Linked DNA regions of Homo sapiens. The protein of the gene in region 1 interacts with the protein of each later gene in a pairwise test. Each region holds a gene or a part of one and is shown in the gene's direction. Other genes may lie near its edges. The genes, in order: CFHR5 and PANX1.

The links.
Region 2: the proteins of CFHR5 (region 1) and PANX1 interact in binary tests that used the Homo sapiens proteins (3 or more experiments, as listed by UniProt).

The regions. Positions count from the first base shown.
Region 1 is NC_000001.11:196,971,115-196,982,221, forward strand, and holds the start of CFHR5 (complement factor H-related protein 5 precursor), read left to right. Parts: upstream 1-6,441; 5' UTR 6,442-6,550; coding exon 6,551-6,608; intron 6,609-11,107. UniProt on the Homo sapiens protein: Involved in complement regulation. The dimerized forms have avidity for tissue-bound complement fragments and efficiently compete with the physiological complement inhibitor CFH.
Region 2 is NC_000011.10:94,172,392-94,183,136, forward strand, and holds the end of PANX1 (pannexin-1), read left to right. Parts: intron 1-1,922; exon of another isoform or gene 1,923-2,026; intron 2,027-3,355; exon of another isoform or gene 3,356-3,497; intron 3,498-5,977; coding exon 5,978-6,201; intron 6,202-7,210; coding exon 7,211-7,866; intron 7,867-8,398; coding exon 8,399-8,478; 3' UTR 8,479-9,577; downstream 9,578-10,745. UniProt on the Homo sapiens protein: Ion channel involved in a variety of physiological functions such as blood pressure regulation, apoptotic cell clearance and oogenesis.

The DNA.
Region 1 (11,107 bases):
AAAATTTCAAGAGAATTCTTTGTAAATATAGATCATTTCATACTAAATTTATATTAAAATGCACAGGAGTTAGAATGGCTGAAACATTTTTTTAAAATAATAAAGTTGAAAGGATCACACAAATCAAATTTGAGGCCTCAAAATATAGCTACCATATTAAAAACAGTATAGTATTGATGGAGGGATAGACATAAATCAATAGAACAGATACAGAATCCAGAAAAGGTCATATAATTGTCCTTGTTTTATTTCTGCATATCCACAAATTTCTCTTGGGAGAAAAAACAAATAAATATAATATTTCTATTCATAGAAATATTTGTATTATTTCTAAAATGGACAAAAGCCTTGATAGTTGATACCTATTTTCTAATATGTATTTTTGTCAATATGAAAAGAAGTATTCCCTAGGAAAATCAAGGAAGAATTAAATAGAGAGCAATACCATGTTCTTGGGCTAGAATACTCAACAGGATAAATAAATAAATTTTTCTCAAATTGTACTATAGGCTTAACATAATTACTTATTAAAATTTCAACAGAATTCTTTGTAAATATAGATCATTCCATACTAAATTTATATTAAAATGCACAGGAGTTAGAATGGCTGAAACATTTTTTTAAAATAATAAAGTTGAAAGGATCACAAAAATCAAATTTGAGGCCTCAAAATATAGCTACCATATTAGAAACAATATAGTATTGATGGAGGGATAGACATAAATCAATAGAACAGATACAGAATCCAGAAATAGACCCACACAAATATGCTCAAGTAACTTTTAACAAAGATGCACAAATAATTCAATACAGAAAAGATCCTTTTTTTTTTTTTAGTTCAGGGCTACCTGTGCAGGTTTGTTACATAGGTAAACTTGTTTCATGGGAGTTAGTTTTACAGAGTATTCTGTCACCCAGGTATTCAGCCTGGTAGCCATTAGTTATTTTTCCTATTCCTTTCCCTCTTCCCACCCTTCACCGTCCATTAGGCCCCAGTGTGTGTTGTTCCCCTCTATGTGTTCATGTTTTCTCATGATTGAGCTCATACTTAGAAGTGAGAATGTGTGGCATGTGGTTGAGAAAAGTTTCTTTTCAACAAATTGTGTTGGGGACTAGCACTTTCTTAGCCAAAAAATTAATTTTGATTTAATCTCACATATTTTACAAAACCTAACTCCAAATGGTTCCTATATCTAAATGCATAATGTAAAACAATCAAACTTGTAGAGGAAGAGAAAATCTTTGTGATCTGGGGTTTGATGGAATTGTTCTTAAACAGGACACCTAAAGGATGACCCATAAAAGAGTGAAATAATAATAATACTTTATCAACATTAAACACTTTTTATCCATGAAAGACATTCTATGAGAGTGAAAAGATAAGCTACTTATTAGCAAAAAATATTTGCAAATAACGTATCTGACAGAGGACTTATACATGGAATATATAAAGAATGCTCTAAACACAGGTAAAACAATCCAATCAATAAAGGTGCCAAAGCCTTGAACAGATCTAACAAAAAAGATATTCAGATGGAAAATAAACATGTGAAAAGTTATTCAATGTCATTAACCATTAGGGAATACACATTAAAACCACAATGAGATTTACTATGTATCTAATAAAATGCTTTAAAAAAATTAAATGAAACACATTGGTAATAGTAAGTGCAAGTGAAAATGCAATACAATGGATCTCTCATACATTGCTTGTGGAAATGTAAAATGTCATAGCCACTATGGAAAACAGACAATTTCTTATAGAGTTCAATAGCACTTTTCATAAAACCCAGTAATCTCACCCCTGACTGTTTACCATAGGGCAGGAGATGGCAAACTATATCTTAGGAACTAGCTATCTATTTTCTTAATAAAGATGTATTGGATGTGAGCCACACCTTTTTATTTATGTATTGTCTATCATTATTTTGGCTCTATAACTACAAAGTTAGGTAGTTGTGGCAGAGGCCATATGGTTCACAACCTTAAAATACTAAACATATGACCCTTCGAGAACAAGTTTGCTGTTCAAGTAAAACATTGCACAAAATTGTCCATCATAGCTTTATGTGTAATAGCCAAAAAGTAGAAGCAACTCAAATGTCCTCAGATGAGCGAAAGAATAAACAAACATGTTACATCCATACAATGGAGTACTTCACAGCAATTAAAAGAAATGAATTACTTATAATACAACAGCTTGGCTACATTTCAAGGACATTACCCTGTGTGAAAAATATCCAAATCAAAAAGTTGACTTACTGTATAATCCAATTTATATAACACTCAAAATGACTAAATTACAGTTATGTAGAACATACTAGTGATGACTAGCAATGAGGGGTGGGGGAATGTGGGGACCATAAAAGGACAGCACACGGGAGTTTTCTGGAGGTGATAGAATAGTTCTGTATACGACTGAGTAGTTCTACATATGACTGATTGTGGTGATGGTTACATGAGTGCATACATGTTGCAAAATTAATATACCACACAAACACAAACGCAAGTTCATGGGAGAGACCATGAAATTCAGTAAGGTTGGTAGCTGAGTTAGTAGTAGAGCACTAATGTCAATTTCCTGGTCTCAATTATTGTACTATAGATATAAGAGATGCAGGAAGTTATAGTTATTGGAGGAAACTGGGTAAAGGGTACATGGGCATTCTCTGTACTATTTTTATGACTTATTATATGAATCTAAGATTATTTCAAAACAAAAATTATTTGGATTATATAGGCTGGGATGTTTTACTTTTATAGCACTTTTGGGGAAGAGAATTTTCAATATTCAAGAGTTATAACCAATTTCAGCAATTTTTCTTTGAGATACTTAAATCTATCTCAAATTTTATCAGTAATAACTTCTACAAGCCAGTTTCATATGTATTTGAATGCTATAATTTGCCTTTTAACCCTTTCATATTTTTTGTAACAACAAACAGTTTCAGACTTAATTTACTTTCCCTGCACTAAACCTGGAATCCACAAAAAAAAGAGGTCCCAGTTTCCTAGATTTATAATGCTGTGTAAGAAACTTATTGGCATAAAACAGCAATCATTTTATTATACTTAAAGATACTGTTAGGAATTGACGCAGGGCACTGAGGTGATGACTTATAACTGTTCCACAATATTTGAGCCTCAGGTGAAAAGATTTAAATGGGTTAGGACTCAAATAACTGAGATTTGGAATCTGCAAATGTCACTCACCTGTATGACACCTGGGCTATTGCCTGGGCCAACTGGGACTATCAACCAGAAGATTTACATATGGCTTCTGCATACAGATTGAACTTCTTGCCAAATGGCAAAAGGCTTCCAAGATAGTGTCAGAGAGATAGTCTTCCAAAATATAAACCCATAACTCTCTAATATCTAGCAGAGTCACTACCACTGTATTGTATCAACAAAAGCATGCCACTAAAAAGTACAGATTTTCAAAATGAGGGAAATGTGATTCCAAATCTTGATAGGATCATGGCAAAATCACATGGCAGAAGAACAAGTGAGATGAGACACAGTGGAGTGAGCATCTTTCAAAATAAAATTGGCCACAAAATTGAAGACAAAGTTATTTTCTAAACTGCCCTTTTATTTCTTATCAAGTATAGTTTCCTTCTCCTTTTATTTGTTGCTAATGTTTGCAGGAGGGCATAATCTCCTGAAATTACTCAGAACAAGAAACAAACAAAAAAGGGCAATCTAAGTTTCTGAATTAGGAGAAATATTCAGCAAATAAAAAGGAGAATAATTGTTGAGTACTGGGCTTCAAAAAAAATAGACAAGAGAAGATAGTGTTAATTCAACTAAAAATCGGCACTAGCTCTGTGAAAATTAACTCTGTGCTTACAAATAAATAACATCCCCTGGATTCAGACAAACCAATGTTTAAAGGTCACAGAGATTAGAAGAAGCCAACAAAAGACTGAGATGGTGAAGCCTTTGAGACAGAAGAGAAACCAGGAGAATGTGGTGTTCCATAGACCATGTGAAGCAGGTATTTCCAAATGGAAGGGGAAAGTCATGAAATTTTTCTGAGTATTCAGTTTTGACCAATGGATTTGATTAGATTGAAGAAGGCATTGGTGACTGTTACAAGAGGGGTTTAAGCGTAGTGTTGGGAATGAAAAAATGAATTAAAGTAGAGATTGTAGATAACATTGGAGTCATCGTATTATAAAATGAGAAGTGAATTAGATTACTAGAAAGAGATTTGGGTTCTATGAACAATTTTTGAGCTTTTGTTGTTGCTCTTCATGATGAAAGATGTTTGGTATGTTTGCATATTGGTGGAAATAATTTGGAAAATGGAGAAATTAATGATACAGGTGAGAAGGAATAATTGAAAGAGCAAAATCCTTGCACAGAAAAGATGGGATCAAATCTGGTAGAGACCATAACAAGATAGGAGTAAAGATCAACATCCAGTGAAGCAAGAGACAATGCAGAAAAGGATGCGTGTGAACAGCAGGTAGTTTTCTTCTGATTGATTCTATATCTAGATGAAAAAATAAATGAAGTCATTAGCAAAGCACAAAGTGAGGATTGGTGGTTAAGGAGGGAGATAATGAAAACAGGAGAGGGGAAAAGCAGTGTGGAAATTATTTAGGACCGTGTTCATTAATTTAAAGCAAGGCAAGTCAGCACAGTTGCCTTTGTTTTTCTTGTAGACACACTCTGCTGCTTCAATTCAGGCACAGGGCAGGTAGAGAATTTATTTGCAAAGGATTGAGGTTTTCTAAGACTTGGATTACAGATAGAAAGGAACGAATGGGCAGGAGAGTGTGTGCAAGGGACTGACTGACAGTGATGAGCCATGGAATCTAATTTAGATGTGGTGGGAAGAGAGAAAATGAAGGGAAGAGAATAGTGAAAAAGTGTCAGGGTCATTGAATGTTTGGAACAAATTTAGTAGAGTAAGTGAGCTAAAAAGATTGTTGAAATGGTCTAGAGTGTGATGCTTAATATTTAGATACTTTAGGTAGTGTAGTAATTGGAAATGACAAGGTTTAGATAGACTAGAATCAATAGTGGAGACTACTAATAGCTCACAGGGACTTCTCTGGTTTCTTGATTGGACATAGCTATGTGCATTCCCATTGACTTCTGAACCACCATAAGTAAGTTTCCTCTTAGTGAGATCATTAGGCTGTTTCTGTAAATTTCCCCATTAAATGTTAAATTTCTCTCAGGCTGGGCACTTTGTTGCTTGCTTCAGCTAGTATCCTCTAGTCTTCTCTGATTGTTTCCCACTGTAATCTCTTTGTATTCAATAGGATCCTCGGGCATGGACCTTTCCAAGCTATAAAGTCACTCTTCTCCAGCAGGGGAGCAGAGCTTCCAGTCCACATAGCCTGCCTGCCCATCCAGGGTTCAACTTCTGAGCCACGGAATTGGGCTGCGAGACAGAGGTGGATGAAAGCATCCGCTCTCTTTTACTGAATTTTATGGAGACTTTCTGGAAAAAATATTTCCCAACATTATGCTGTTTGGCCAATTTCCAGAGACAACCAATGGTTACTTTTAAATTTTTATCCAGTTTTATTGCTGCCTTTTGGTTGGGAGTGAATATACCAAGACCCTCACATAGCCATTCTCGAAGTCCCACCTGAACAAAATGATTTTGAATTATAATTCTGTTCTTCAAACATTTCAGGAAACGTTACTTGGCAAAAATTATTCTTTTTTTTTTTTTTTTTTTTTTTGAGACAGAGTCTCGCTCTGTCGCCCAGGCTGGAGTGCAGTGGCGCGATCTCCACTCACGGCAAGCTCTGCCTCCCGGTTTTACGCCATTCTCCTGCCTCAGCCTCCCGAGTAGCTGGGACTACAGGCGCCCGCCACCACGCCTGGCTAAATTTTTTTTGTATTTTTCAGTAGAGACGGGTTTCACCGTGTTAGCCAGGATGGTCTCGATCTCCTGACCTTGTGATCCACCCGCCTCGGCCTCCCAAAGTGCTGGGATTACAGGCTTGAGCCATTGCGCCCGGCCAGCAAAAATAATTCTTGATTAGACCTTTTATAGTTTATGAAATATTAAAACTGTTAAGAAGGTACCTAATTCTTAGTGCCAGTTTTAAAAGGGAATTTACAACTACAAAAGTGATATTGTTGTATTAAGATGAGGACTGATGACTTGCACTTGCTTGCCTTTTGAAACAGCTGAACCCTTGGCTAGAAAAAAAAAAAAAACCCAGGGGGCCGGCGGTGGGGAGCTTCCTCTCTCCTCTAAACAGTCCATTTCTGATTGTTCCAAACTCAGAGACTCGGTGACTACAACAAGGAAATTGAACAGCAGTTATTTTGCTTAAATAAATATTACATAACGAGCTGAGAATATTATTGTGAAGACACTGATTAGATACTATTTGCTTATTTCACACAACCCTCCATGAACTTTGATGTTTTCCACAAAGGGCTTTACTAAACTAGCTTCCCCTTAGTACATTGAAATTCAAAGTCATGCTTGTAACTGTTAATGAAAGCAGATTTAAAGCAACACCACCATCACTGGAGTATTTTTAGTTATATACGATTGAGACTACCAAGCATGTTGCTCTTATTCAGTGTAATCCTAATCTCATGGGTATCCACTGTTGGGGGAGAAGGTAAGTTGAAAACAGATCCGAATATTTTAGTTCCTTTTCAAATGTATTTATTGATTGTGTGTGTGTATGCATACAAATATTTTTAAATGAATAAATAGCTGAGGATAATTTGAAGGGGTATCACAATATTCATCTATTTTCTGGAAATATTTTCCAACATGCAATTAGCAGGAAAATTGAATGAAATTAATTCTCTCCGTTCTCTAGTTTGCTAAGGGTAAATGGTCACCAAATAGATAATGTAAAGAGAAATCAAAGGAGAGAAAATCTGCTATAATAAAGATGACAAGGTGAAATATTAGTGTAATTCTGCATAAACTCTGCAATGCCACTGACTAGAAAAATCAACCCCAAAAGATTTGGCCACCTTCATTATGTTTTGAGAATTTTATTTTCATAGATTTGATAATTTACATTTTAAATGTTATTAAAATGAAGGAATTCTCATTTCAGCCTAATTATCATTCAACAGGGAAATATATTTTAATGAAACAATAGAAAATATTATTTTTATATATAAACCAGTGAACTGCCAAAAAATTGTTTCTTCTGAGCTCTTCCACAAATTTCAAAAGTGAAATAATATATCACTTCTTTATTAATACTATAAACTGATTCTTATAACATTATAAACTATCCCATTTTATTTCATGTGGAAATTAAAGCCACTATATCAAAAGGATTGCAAACAAAATCTCTAACAAGGTCTAGGATACTGATTAAACTATGTGTGTACGTGAAGTTTCAATCATTGTGCTATATACTCTTTGATTTCCAGAAAGTTTTTATTTTACTGCTTTACTGCTTTCTAATGTTTACAGATCTTTAAATTTTTTGAACACTTTCTTCTCAGTCCTGACATAAGAGAAAAATATGAACCATAAAATGCTTTCTTTTTAAGATATGCCCTTACAAATGTTGCAAAACATTATTTCTATGGGCCTAAAATTCATTTTATTTTGTTTTCACTTTTAGTACTGAGCTATAATCACAAGAGTGCGATTGCATGAGTGTATTTGATTTTTCTTAAGTCTGTGTTTATGATATTTATTAAGTGGCTTAAACATCTGTTACAAATGGCATTACACAAGGATTTCTAAAGGGGGGTGGAAGCAGAGGAAGATAAGTGAAAATTATGAGGATAATATGTAGAATTTTGACAATTCCTAACCCCACAAAACTTTCAAGCTTCAGTCCAGTCCCAGGATAAACTTTAGTGAAATTCTATTAAAAGTTGTCTAGGTGTTAAATGACCTGTAAGTGTGCATTACACTTTTGTTTTGGTGTCTATTTAGAAACTGGCCAAACAGCAGAAATAACAGACGAAAGCAACACTTTTGTACAAATAGAAAACTGCATGCTTCCAGTAGCAAAACATGAATCAAGCAATATATTGTGCTTCATGCTGTAGCAAAGAAGCTGGAAAGAATATGACAACGCCACCCACCCCTCACTACTACTTAGAGTGTCCTAAAAGAAAAGCAAAATGTAAATAGGCAAATAAATTGCAAGGTTTTATATATAGGTAATTGTCTGTGTGTGTGTGTGTGTGTGTGTGTGTGTGTACACTCATACATCACTTAATGATAGGAAAACGTTCTGAGAAGTGTGTCTATAGGCAATTTCGTCCTCCTGCAAACATCATAGAGTGTACTTACACAAACCTAGATTGTATAGCCTACTACCTAACTAAGCTATACGGCCTGTCACTCCTAGACTGCAAACCTGTACAGCATGTTACTGTACTGAATACTGTGGGCAACTGTAGCACAAATGTAAGAATGTGTTTACCTAAACATATAAAAGGTACAATAAAAATACAATATAAAATATTAAGAATGGCAGACTTGTATAGGGCTCTTACCGTCAATAGGGTTTGCAGGACTGAAAGTTGTTCTGGGTAAGTCACTGAGTGAGTGGTGTGCAAATATGAAGGCTTAGCACATTACCATACACTACTGTAAACTTCATGAACACTGAATACTTGAGCTAGGTAAATTTATTTTATTTATATATTTATTTCAATATTTTGGGGGGAGCAGGTGGTTTTTGGTTACATGGATAAGTTCTTTAGTGCTAATTACTGAGCTTCTGGTGCACCCAGGATAGACTAAATTTATTTTTAAAACTTTTCTTCAATAATAAATTAATTTATGATAAGCTTTCTACTTTATCAACTGAAAATCTTTTAACTTGTAACTCTTTTGTTTTAGCTTAAAACACACCTTGTATAGATGTACAAAATATTTTTTCTTTCTATCCTTATTCTGTAAGATTTTTATCTTTTAAATTATTTATTTATTTACCTTCTACACCTTTTTGTTAAAAGCAGACACAAACACACACATTAACCTCGGCCTACGGAGGGTCAGGATCATCAGTATCACTGTCTTCCTCCTCACTCTTGTTCCACTAGAAGGTCTTTAGGGCAGTAACATGCATGGAGCTGTCCTCTCCTATGATAACAAAGCCTTCTTCTGGAATAGTTCCTGAAGGACCCGCCTGAGGATGTTTTACAGTTATTTTTTTTTAATAAGTAGAAGAAGTGAACTATAAAATAATGATAACAACTATAGTACATTAAATACATTAACCAGTACCATGGTCATTTATTATCATTATCAAGTATTGTGTACTATACATAATTGTGTGTGCTATTGTTTATATGACTGGCAATGCTGTAAGTTTGTTTATACCAGCACTGCCACAAACATGTGAGTAATACATTGGATTATGATGTTGTGGTGGTCATCAGTTGATAGGAATTTTTCAGCTACATTATAATCTTATGGGACCACTGTGATATAAGTGATCAGTCATTGACCAAAACGTCATTATGTGGTAAATGACTGTATGTCTGTATATATACGTGTGTGTGTGTGTGTGTGTGTGTGTGTGTGTGTGTGTATCCCAGAAGAAATATATTCACAGTATTCTATCAGAATGTCGAGACAAGGAAAATTATTTTCTGCTTTTGGAGTGGGTTGTTGTGTAACGGCAGGCTTGCCAAAGGACGATAACACTCCTAGCACCATTGCGGATGTGCACAATGGTTATACGATGAATGTTGTAGAGCAAGTTCTAAAGGATAGGTAGAATACAACTGGATGGTGAGAACTAAGTTATTCTGGATAGCGAAGAATATGTAAGTACATATGCATGAAAATCAAGTACTATAATTTTGCAATTTTCAAAAAGTAAATGATATTTAAAAGGAGTTATGATAGGTTAATACTATCAAGACACGAGGGAGTCTTTCCCTCAGTATCTTCTCCAAAACTATCTAATGTCAATTTTTAAACAGTTAGGTAATAAATTTAAGGTTTCACAAGGTTAAATACCACAAGAATTATTTCAAATATTGTGCAACATTAAATATTACTTCTAGGTAGTTAAAAAAGAGAAATTTCCCTTGATTTGTCAGCTGAATTTCTGCATGCTTTTTCTAAATAAGGTGAAAAACAAAACAATTTCTTATGCAGCAATGCTATATTCAGGAAATATCTTGAGCTAAAAAATGAGCACACTATATTGAGGAAATATCTCGAGCTAAAACAGCATTCAAAGATAAAGTACATCAAATCCATAGAATGTACAATATCAAGAGTAAACCCTAATGTAAACTATGGGCTTTAATGACAATAATACTGATAGTGAAGGGGGCTATTCATGTGGCAGGGAAGAGGAAGTGGTATATAGGAAATCTCTGTACCTTCCACTCAATTTTACAGTAAAAAAACTGTAAATAAAAAATTAAGTCTAATAAAAAATATGTGTATATATAAATATATATATACACAAGAAAAAATAGAGTCAAAACATGAATATTTCACCCATTTTCTACATTGTTTTACCATATCTTGCACCATAGTGCATATGGATGTATGTGTGAGTGTCTATATAAATATATCCAGTAGTATCCTCAGTATCATTAGTATCCTTAAGGAATTGTTCCAGGACTCTTTTCACCCCCAGCAGATACCAAAATCCACAGATGCTCAAGTCTCTAAGAGAGAATGGCGTAGTATTTGCATATAACATATGCACATCCTCTCATATAATTTAAATCATCTCTAGATTATTTATAATATCTAACATAATGTAAATACTATATAAATAATTGTTATATTGTATTTTTAATTGCATTGTTTTTATTGTTTTATTATCTTTTTATTGTTTTTTCTTTTTCAGATATTTTGGACTTGCAGTATAATAAACATTTATGTATACAGCATTTACCAGAATTTAGCTCTAATTTTATCTCGGTTGAGTTGTTCTTAGTGATTTTCTTATACTCTTTAAATTATTTCCACTGAAACCACATAAACTTTGTAACCAGAAAGTAATCAGAATATTAATAAACAAAAAATCAAATTACCTACCCAACATTTTTACTGCACCAGAAAAAAAAATAGGACAGATTTTTCTGGTGGAAATACCTATGACAGTTGATGAGAATAGAAAAAGAAATAAATCTGAGAGCTGAGAACAATCCTATC
Region 2 (10,745 bases), on another chromosome or scaffold:
GCAATTCTGCATTTATAACAGACTGCCAGGTGATAACTGAGGTTTGTGGTCTATGGACCACACCACTCTTTGAGAAGCAAGAATCCAGAGCCAGGGTTGGCAGACTAGGACACACATGCTTGAGCCAAATCAGTCCATACCTGTTTTTGTAAATAAAATTTTATTGGAACACAACTGTGCCCCATTTGTTCACACATTATCTGTGGCTGCTTTTGCACTATAATGGCAGAGTTGAGCAGCTGCAACAGAGACCATGTAGCTCTCAAACCTGTAATATTTACTCTCTGGCCCTTTACAAGAAAACCCTATGGACCCTTAATCTGGAATACTCAAGCTCTCCCAGATGATCACAAACTGTATTGAAAGGGAGCTCCTTGCCTCATAGGACAATTCATTGCATTTCATAGATCCGTGGGAAGGCTGCTCCTTGTCACTTGGTTCTACTTATCTTGGTAGGCATCTTTTCCTCCTTCTGTGAACAGATACTTTGCTCGCTGTCTTCTCCAGGGCTCTCCCCATGATGGGTTCCCTCCAGCTGCACTCCAGAATGTCACCCAGTGCAAACCACAGCACCTTTGGTGCTGAATAGAAGCCATGCCATCTGTATTTTCTGCCTTCTGTAAGCTTCTCAGGGAGTGCACATTAGCTTTCTGGGGTAGCTGTTCACTCTTGACTCCCGCTGTCTAGGATTGTCTGTAAGTGCGGTATTACCTGAACAGCATATAGCCAGAACAGACATCCTTCATGCATCTTTTTACTCCACTTCCCCAGTGCAGGATGTTCTTGGTTTACCTACTTCCTACTTTCTGACTGCTTTTCTCCATTTCTTCCAAGATTCTCTTTTTGCCTGACCCTTAAATGTTATAGGGTCTCAGGCCTGTTCGTGGTCTTCTGGTCTTCTCCTTCTGCCCATTCTCCTTGGATGATCTTAACCATACAGTTGGCTTTGACCACATATGTGCTGCCAAATCCTGAATTGTACAGCTAGATTCTTTTCCTTTATTTTCAGTTATCTACTACAGACCAGGGCGTTTTGACTGCAGGTATCTCATGTTCAAAATTTCTCATCTTCTCAGGTCTGCCTCCCACCTCACTCCCGTCTGCTCTGAATCTGGGACTCTTCATTTATTTCACCTGAAGGTTCCACCCCGTCATGCCCTTGCATGAGCTACACACCCGGCGTGATCCTCAGTTCTTCTCCTTTTCCGTCCCCCTCTTCTGTGTGGACACTGAAGTGTATGTCTCCCCCATCTGTTGCTCTCAGATCTGTCTTCTCTTCCTGCCTCTCTGCCACAGTGACCTCCTGCCTGGTCTCTCTCCTTCCCATGTGTTTCTTCTTTGCCTCTGTAGTGGTTTTCTGGAATATATTTGATTTTGCCCTCTACCAGTGGTACCCCATTGTGTATGGTGTGGGAATTTGTGGCCCTCTTAATTCAGTCTCTGCTTACACTTTTTGTGAGTTTCCTAGATCTGCTATAACAAATTACAACAGAAATGTATTTCCTCCTAGTTTTGGAGGCCAGAAGTCCACAATCAAGGTGTTGCCAGAATTGGCTCCTTTTGGTGCTTTCAGGGAGAGTCTGTGATGTGCTTTCTTCTAGTTCCTGGTGGCTGCTGGCAGTCCTCTGTGTTCCTAGGGTGGTAGATGCATCACTCCAGTCTCTACCTCTGTCATCACAGGCTTCTTCCTGTGTGTCTCTGTGTCTTCATTTGGCCTTCTGATAAGGACACAAGTCATTGGATTAGGACCCACCCTAATTTATCATGACCTTATCTTAATTTAACTAATTATATTTGCAAAGACCTATTTCCAAACAGTATCACACTCTGAGGTTCCAGGTGGTCATTAGTTAGGGTTGGGGGGCAGTATTCAAGCCAGCACACCCTTCCAGCCTCTGCTCTGTCTACTTCCTCACTCACAGGCTTGTTCATTTACCTTGGTGCTCTGGATGAGTGAGAATTCAACAGACAAACACGGAGGAAAGGATTCCAAGCAGAGGAAAGAGGATTCCAAAGGGCCACAGAGGTGACATTTGTGCTGAGTCTTAACATAAGGCTTTGTTTTATTTTATTGCCGCACTGTACTTTAAGACATAGTTCAGGTGTTACCTCTTTTATGAAGCTTCCCTGACCACCTCCCCAGGGACTTTTCTGTTCCCTCAGTGCTTAGTACCTACATGTTTTGATGATTTAATTATCAGCTTGTGTTCCCATCTGTCCTGTGTAATCTTGGGGCAGACTCTGTGCCTAGTCTGTGGGGGCCGTGCATCCAGCCCACTGCCTAGCACATAGCAGGTCCCCAGGAGATGTTTTTGAGTGAATTTACCCATCTGCACTTAATCCCCTAAGATGAGGTCACATGCATTTTAGGGGAGGAGTTGTTCAGTCCGAATTGGATGGTTCTTTGCCTTCGATGAGGTAGAGAGGATTTGAATATGGAGGGAAGTTGTACTGCTCACCCTCTAGGTTCCTTCCATCTGGAGGTTTCTGTTGTTTTAACTATAACCCATTCCAGAAACAGCACACATTTTTAAGGCAGATAGACTGAAAATTGTAGTTGGACAGCTGCTTGGTCCCACAATGATTTGAGAAGTTTCCCTATTCTTGGAAGAGCTCAATACTCACTCGAACATCATGCAGAATAGTGCCATCATGGCTTCAAGAGATGCTGAGCATCCCAGGCCTAATGTGGAGTTGACACAGCTTATGAACAAAGCTGTTTCCATCTGCAGATGCACCCTCAAAGCCCTGCAGCTTTTCCATATTTCTTATTTGAAATTAAAGACTGTAATTTTGTGTTATTTTGGATTCTTATTTCCTGTTTTACTACATTTTTATAGAATCACTGAAAGTTGCCTTTTTATTTTGGTGGGAAAAAAATAAAAAGAGGTTTTAGTGTGGAGAAAACCAAGAGATGTGGCATTAAATGATGTTATTATAGTGGTGATCAAGGTACAAGGCTATTTTAGGGAAATTTACACCCTATATGTAATTTGTTTTTCTAATTACAATGAGCTGTGCTGAACTATTCATTGTACCACTTATTGTACCAAATTATTGTACCACTTGGGCATGTTTAAAAATACCACAGACTGTAAATAGTCACTTTTTAATTCAAGGGAACAGTTCGAAGTGAAATGCCATTATTCAAATAGCTTTGAAACAAAAGTGACTTATACAGATGTTTCACAAGCCCATGTTAGAAAAAGTTTTCTCCCTGTGGTTCCCAGATAGAATGCCTGGCTTTCGTGGTTATGGAAGCAGCAGAAACTCTGTGTCATGCACTTATGTTTTTAAACTAATGGGCACCCTTCTGATTGGGCAAGAATTAAATGAACATTCCTTCTCCCCACAGCCAGCTATGAATTATGCAGCCAAAATTCAGCTAATCACAGCCTGCTTTGTGTGTCATTGTGTAGCAGCCCTTTGCAAATTGGGTTAATACTTTTGAAACACCTCATCCCGTGCCAGAATGCCAAAGTAAAGCAGCTGTCTTGGTAAGAGGGCTTTGCAAAGTTTTGGGGTCATTTGTGCTTATTTCTGTCTTGCGTCTGGGGCAGAGATTCCTTATGTGGGTCTGTGATAGTGACAGGAGGCCTGCAAACTAGGATAGGAAAATATATGACAGCTTTATTTTTTATTCACTTCCAAATAAAATTTAGCATTAAGAAAGTTTTTATGTAGGCAACAATCCATAGTGATATTAGCAGTACCTGTGAGTTTGTCACCCACAGAAAATCACAGATATCCTGGAATATCGTTTACTCTTCACTACTTCAAAGTTTCAATAGCTGTTAGATCATCTGCTAGATCCTAATTTAAGTATGAATAAAGAATTGGATGCAAAATATTAATATTTTGGTAACTGTATATCAGTGCTCTATTTCCTTTGTGAACCTATATATATATTATTTTATGCATTTAAAAACAAGGAAAGATTGAAGAACTGTCACAAAACCAAGGAGTCTAGGGAGACATGGCAACTAAATGCAGTGAGTACCCTGGATTGGATCTTGGAACAGGAAGAGGACAGTAGGGGAAAAACTACTACTGTACTTTACAAATAAAAGTCTGAAGTTTAGTTTCTGATAATGTGCCGATGTTGGCTTCTTAGTCTTAACAAATATATCACAGAAATATGAGTCATTAGCAATGGGGGAAACTGAGTGAGGGGCTTATGGGAATGCTCTGTACATCTGAAATTACAGTGAGGGCCATGTTGTGGGGGCTGCCGTCCACTCCCAGAAATGTTTTGAGGGGAGGGTTTCATGTCAACTTACGGCCATCATGGCCTCGTCCATTACAACTCTGAGAAATGGTGGAGATAGACCCATCCAAAAGTAAGGAGAAGTTTTCCAGAGGAGTAAAGTAATTGAGAGTGTGTTAGATTGGAAAAAGATGTCTCTGGGGTCAGAGAGGTTGGCAACATAGTCTGACTCTCACTTACCAGCTTTGTGATCTGGGGCCAGAAACTGCTCCCGGCTTTCTCTTCCCATTTGCAGAATGGAGCCATCTATAGAGTCCCTGCCAGGGTTGCTGTGAGGACTGAACATAACGTGTCCACCTAGCTAATCTTTTTGTGGTTACCTGGAGTGTTTGAGTGCCTGTTCTATGCCAGGCCCTTTGCTAAGCATTTTCCATCAATTATCTCCTTTAATCTTCATGACACCTCTATTCCATGACCATTTCATACATAAGGAAACTGAGGGTCAGAGACTTTGAAAACTAACCAGATGGATGGGCTAAATGCTGGGGACAGCGGGAGCCATTGCAGGTACCTGAGCAGGGTGAACTTGGCGGTTCCAAGAGTTAAGCCTCAGTAATGGTGTACAGGAGAGAATAGAGGCAGGGAGAGCCACTTGGTAAGCACAGAGTGAGGGTTCTAATTAGGGAACAGAAAGGAAAAGAAGCAGTTTTGTCCAAGAAGGCAAAGAGCAAACAAAAAGCAATACTCTTATGTCTTATTGCTGATTAGAAGATCACGCAAAAGGATAGTCGAAAGTGACATCAAGGGCCTAGACCAGGGTCAGCAAACTTCTGCAGAGGGCCAGATCATAAAGTTTTTTTGTCATTGCAGATCACATGGTCACTGTCGCAGCTACTTAGTTCTGCAGAGTAGACATGATTGCCCAAGGCCGCAATGCTGAGCTTCAATTCAGATCTGCACTGACTGCAATTTACGGTCTTCCTAAGTCTTCTGCTGAGGCTAAGCCACCTCTGACCAACTGGTGGTCCTGGTTACTGGGGTGCTCCTCACCCTCTCTGACGTGTGAATCCCCTCTTGTTTGGTGTGTGTCTGCACCCTGATGTGGATGCTCTCCTCTTGATTCCCTTGCCCGTTGTGGATGGCCTCTCTGAGCCCAAGTTTATCCAACTATACGATGAGGGTGTTGGACTGCCTTCAAAGTCTGTTCCACATTCATTCTGCATTCTGTGAATTCAACTGCTTATTTCAGCTGTCTTATTGGGATGATTACTGAATCACTGAAGTCGAAGCTTTTCTAATTTGTTTTGGGGGAAGTTACATGTTTCTTTGGCATTTTCCCAGATTCCAGAGTAGGGCAAAAATGGAGCCGTATGCCTTAGTTGCTTCTTAAAACCATAAAAGTTAACAAAAACCCAGCAGAAGCCTTCGTGATAGCTGCAGGTTTCTTAACTGGGATTTTGTTCAGGGAACGGGAGTAATTTTATTTTTTTATTTTCCTTCTGTGATTAGAACGTACACACCATGTGTCACCATGCAGTTGCTGATTACTTCAAATTAATACCTATGGAAGAAAAAAAAATAGGTAGTTACCTGTGACAGGTATTACCTGGACAGGGGAATTTAGCCATAAGAAGTAGTTATTAGGTAATGAGCCCAATTTCCACAATACACATTTGTCTCAAGATGTGAGAAAATGAGAGCATCACTTGGCGCCATAGGTTACTGCATGGGGGGTTTGTTAAGCCCATGATTTGTTCTCTTGTTTTTCAGTTTTTCCCCTACATCCTGCTGCTCTTTGCGATCCTCCTGTACCTGCCCCCGCTGTTCTGGCGTTTCGCAGCTGCTCCTCATATTTGCTCAGACTTGAAGTTTATCATGGAAGAACTTGACAAAGTTTACAACCGTGCAATTAAGGCTGCAAAGAGTGCGCGTGACCTTGACATGAGAGATGGAGCCTGCTCAGTTCCAGGTGTTACCGAGAACTTAGGGCAAAGGTAACTTAGCCCCAGCAGGCAGCTCATCGGGTTTTGTAGGACAAATTCTCTGCCCTTCTACTGCCAGTCTGGGCCCAGAGTTCTCATTGCTAGGAGGCGGGGCAGGAGTGGAAGCAGGGGGACGTCATGCACCTAGTGACAGCCTGTAGTATCCCGGGATGTCCACTCTCCCCAAATCTCACCGCGACCCATCCTACCCATTTGTTTATCCTTCTGTCAAGACTCATTCCCTTGATGAGTGAAACATTACATCTCATTTTAAAAATGCAGTTCTTGTAGGGGTAACAGATTGAGGTGCTATATGAAGCTTGCTTGCTTTGATCTATTTAACTCCTTAATGGAGACGCACAGAGGATTTCAAGGCAGCTGAGCAAGGGATGAGAGAGAAATGGGGAATGAGTAGGTCGTGGCTTGCCTTTTCACAACCTTCTTTTGGTTCTTGTTATTGAATAATTGGAATAATAATAAGAGCCATCATTTTTTGAATATTTAATATATCTCACACACCGTATTGAGTTATTTAAGTACATTATCTCCTTTAACCCTCAGAGCAACATTACTAGTGCATTTGTTAACCTCCTCCTCCACTTTTATTCTGGATAAAAATACTCTTCTGTAGCTGTAAGTGAGAGTCTGGGAACTGAACCATGCCCTTTAGACCCCATAGTTTTTGCCCATACCCCCTGAGTTGTCCCACCCCTTGCCTGTAAGAGGCGTATGCTTACACATATTTAGGATTTACCAGATGCCAGGCATCACTCTAAAAATTTCCAAATATTAACTCATTTAATTAACTAGGCCTTCTGTTAAATATTAAGGGGAAAAGCATTTTATTATTCCTTTTCTTCCTCCTCTTTTAAACGGATTTTATTTTTGACTACTGACGTTGTAGGTAAAGAAGTATGGGTGTTTGAAATTTTTAGTGTGACATTGTTGAATGTGTATCTGCCTTTAATATTTGATGGTCTTGATGAGTGCCTAAGTTATTTTTGTTTCCTTTATTTTTTAGTTTGTGGGAGGTATCTGAAAGCCACTTCAAGTACCCAATTGTGGAGCAGTACTTGAAGACAAAGAAAAATTCTAATAATTTAATCATCAAGTACATTAGCTGCCGCCTGCTGACACTCATCATTATACTGTTAGCGTGTATCTACCTGGGCTATTACTTCAGCCTCTCCTCACTCTCAGACGAGTTTGTGTGCAGCATCAAATCAGGGATCCTGAGAAACGACAGCACCGTGCCCGATCAGTTTCAGTGCAAACTCATTGCCGTGGGCATCTTCCAGTTGCTCAGTGTCATTAACCTTGTGGTTTATGTCCTGCTGGCTCCCGTGGTTGTCTACACGCTGTTTGTTCCATTCCGACAGAAGACAGATGTTCTCAAAGTGTACGAAATCCTCCCCACTTTTGATGTTCTGCATTTCAAATCTGAAGGGTACAACGATTTGAGCCTCTACAATCTCTTCTTGGAGGAAAATATAAGTGAGGTCAAGTCATACAAGTGTCTTAAGGTACTGGAGAATATTAAGAGCAGTGGTCAGGGGATCGACCCAATGCTACTCCTGACAAACCTTGGCATGATCAAGATGGATGTTGTTGATGGCAAAACTCCCATGTCTGCAGAGATGAGAGAGGAGCAGGGGAACCAGACGGCAGAGCTCCAAGGTAGGGTTTGCTTTTGGCAGAGGCTACGGGAGTCTACCGAGAGCCTTTGCAGCAGCCTTGTGGGAATATTGACAGTCTTTACCCTGCCCATCATTTAAACCATTTCCAAGCATTAAAAACCTTAATACCAAGGTGCGGGGTAGGGGGAGTGGGAACCCCTCAGTATAAGGAGAGAGAGGAAAAGAATTGGTGCTGCTCTACATTTCCAAAGAAGAATAACTTCTGTGCTTTTTCTGGTTTTTCCCTCTTCTCTGTCTGTCTCACACTCTCTCTTGCTCAGCAATCTTCCTTGTCTTTCTTGCTTATTTTTGTCTTATCTTACTGGCTTTCCTTTCTACCTCTGATCTCCTTCTCTGTTACTCTCTGACTTTCTCTTTCAAAGGGGACTAAAAGTTTATTGATTCTTTTAGTTAGGCCAAGAAGCAAAACATGGTATAGACTGTGAGAGGAATTTTTGGCAGAAGAAAAATTGATTAGTATTGGTAATTCCTGCTATGTTTCTGTCATAAATATTTGTTTTCAATTTTGACAGGTATGAACATAGACAGTGAAACTAAAGCAAATAATGGAGAGAAGAATGCCCGACAGAGACTTCTGGATTCTTCTTGCTGATGATTTTTTTCCTTGAGCTGTAAATCTGTGACTTCTGCGACATGGGATTTAATTTGGCTAAAGCACCCCTGTTGGTTTCACAGCTGGTTTGCAATAAATGGTTCTTGGTGGAGATACTGAGCATGTCTTATTGAGTCCCTAATGGAAATGGTGATCAACAAAAGGTTATGGAAGAATGGTTTATGAACTTCCCATAGGAAGCACCTGAGAGATAGTAAACTGCAGCAAGTAACTATGTGTAAGTCCTCATCAAATGAAAAGCAGAAAGACAAGAACAATTAGTCAAGAGCAGTAGCCCTGTCAGAGCCTCGGAGCAATACCTTTCTGTACCCGTGGTGAGACAAGACCCAGAGCTACTGGAAAACAAGCACTTTGGAAGATTTGTTTTGTTTTCATGGAATAATAATATGTCAGGGTATAATTTAACGTGAGTTTCTTATGTGCCCTTAAAGACTGTTAGACAAGAAAAGCATTCACTGGCTAATAATCCATAGGTCGACCTATGTCCTAAGTTAGGTGTAAGGTCCGATGCCTTGGCCCACACTCGAGCTCTCTTTACATTGTTAGTTGTCAACCTTGGCTGATGGAAATCCCGTAACCACTATTTGTTGCACTGTGCCTTGAAGGGCAGCAGGCCCAAGTGCTGCTCTGACTGAAAACTGAGTTAACAAGATGAAATCTAAAGGATATTCACAGTGACTTCAATTCAGGAAGAATGCTTCCAAAAGAGCCCAGTGGGGAAATCTGACATCACAGAAGACATTAATTCAGTCACTTTCAAAGAGTTTGTCTACAGGCGGTTTCTCTGTTATCAAAGGCATTTGAAATAGGATTTTACTTAAACAATAATGGAACACAGGAGTATTTAAAGTGAAGAACACTTTGCCTGAATGTGATCAGGGCACATAAGTGACATTGGCATGCTTCATATGGCGTGCTTGGAGCCAGAAAAACTTAGCGGTTTATTTTGTTTATATTTAAGCACAGCTTTAAAAAATTCATTATCGTTTATTCAGTGTCCGAATTGAGGCCATTTGGGAAGAAAATTCTAGCACTGGTGGAGAATTATAGAATAAAGATTATAAATGGTTGGATAAGACAAATGTAAGCTTATTTCATAAACATTTAAAGCTGATTCAGAACATGTTAAAAACTGTTCCCAATTCCAACTATGTAAATAGATCCTATGTTCACATTTTACACACACACACAAAAATCTTTAACATCTGTGGAACTTCCCAGTTTTAGTCTTAGAAAGTTAGCATGTTGCATAAGTTCAGTAATCCTCAGGAACCTCCAAGTTTACTTTTAGCTCTTACGGACAGTTGTTTACATAATCTAATTACTGTTTTCTGAAGAACGGAAATTATATAAGCTGCTGTCTGCCTTTTGGAATATTCAGAAAAGCAGATTTTATTTGTACTTCTGTGATGTTTTCTGAAATGGAAAGCTGATGATAAATATCAAAGTAGCAATCAGTGCGTTAAATTATTCTGTTACATGATATTTATTACTGTTGAATTATTCTGTGACTTAGAAATGGCAGTAACCTAAATAATGGAATTTGCAAAATTATTATATTGCCGTATCTGAGATGTTCCATCACAAGTTTCTACACTGGTTTCTTTTGAAAATTTAAAAAGATTTACGAGATACATTTTCTAGGATATGATTTTTTTTTTACAAAAAGCTTCATCTTCTGTAGACTATCCTTAATTTCTATTTTGAAACGGTAAAAATTGATATTTTAGGACACCAGGAAGTCTCCAAGCCATTCCCACTCTCTGAACTCCAGTAGGGTCTGTGATGTCCCAGGCACCAGTACCAAGTTGGATGTGCAGATATGCATAGGCAGGTCCCATCCTTGAGGACTTCAGAGTCCAGTAAAAGGCAGCAGAAACATGGGCTGGTGCCTAAGAGGAGAAAGCGTAGCCACAGTAAAGGCTATGCCAGAAAACTCCTAGCAAATGCTCTGTGTTCTTGGGAGAGGGCACATTGTTTTTGTTTTCTCTCCTATAGTTCCTGTAACTGCTGGTTTTGAGAATATAGTAATCATTTTTCCCAGAGGCAGATGACCACCTTAAGGTTCTTTAGCTGCAAATCCTCTAGGTTGAAGTTTGTGTGAAATAGTCACAGTGATTTTGAATAGTAAGGAATCCAGTTGCCTTTTGAACCTTCCCTCACAGGGATGAGAGAACAAGCCTGTGGAGGTTGTGGAGCTACTGGTAAACAACTGTCAGGGCCCCAGAAGGCTGATGTGGAGGCCT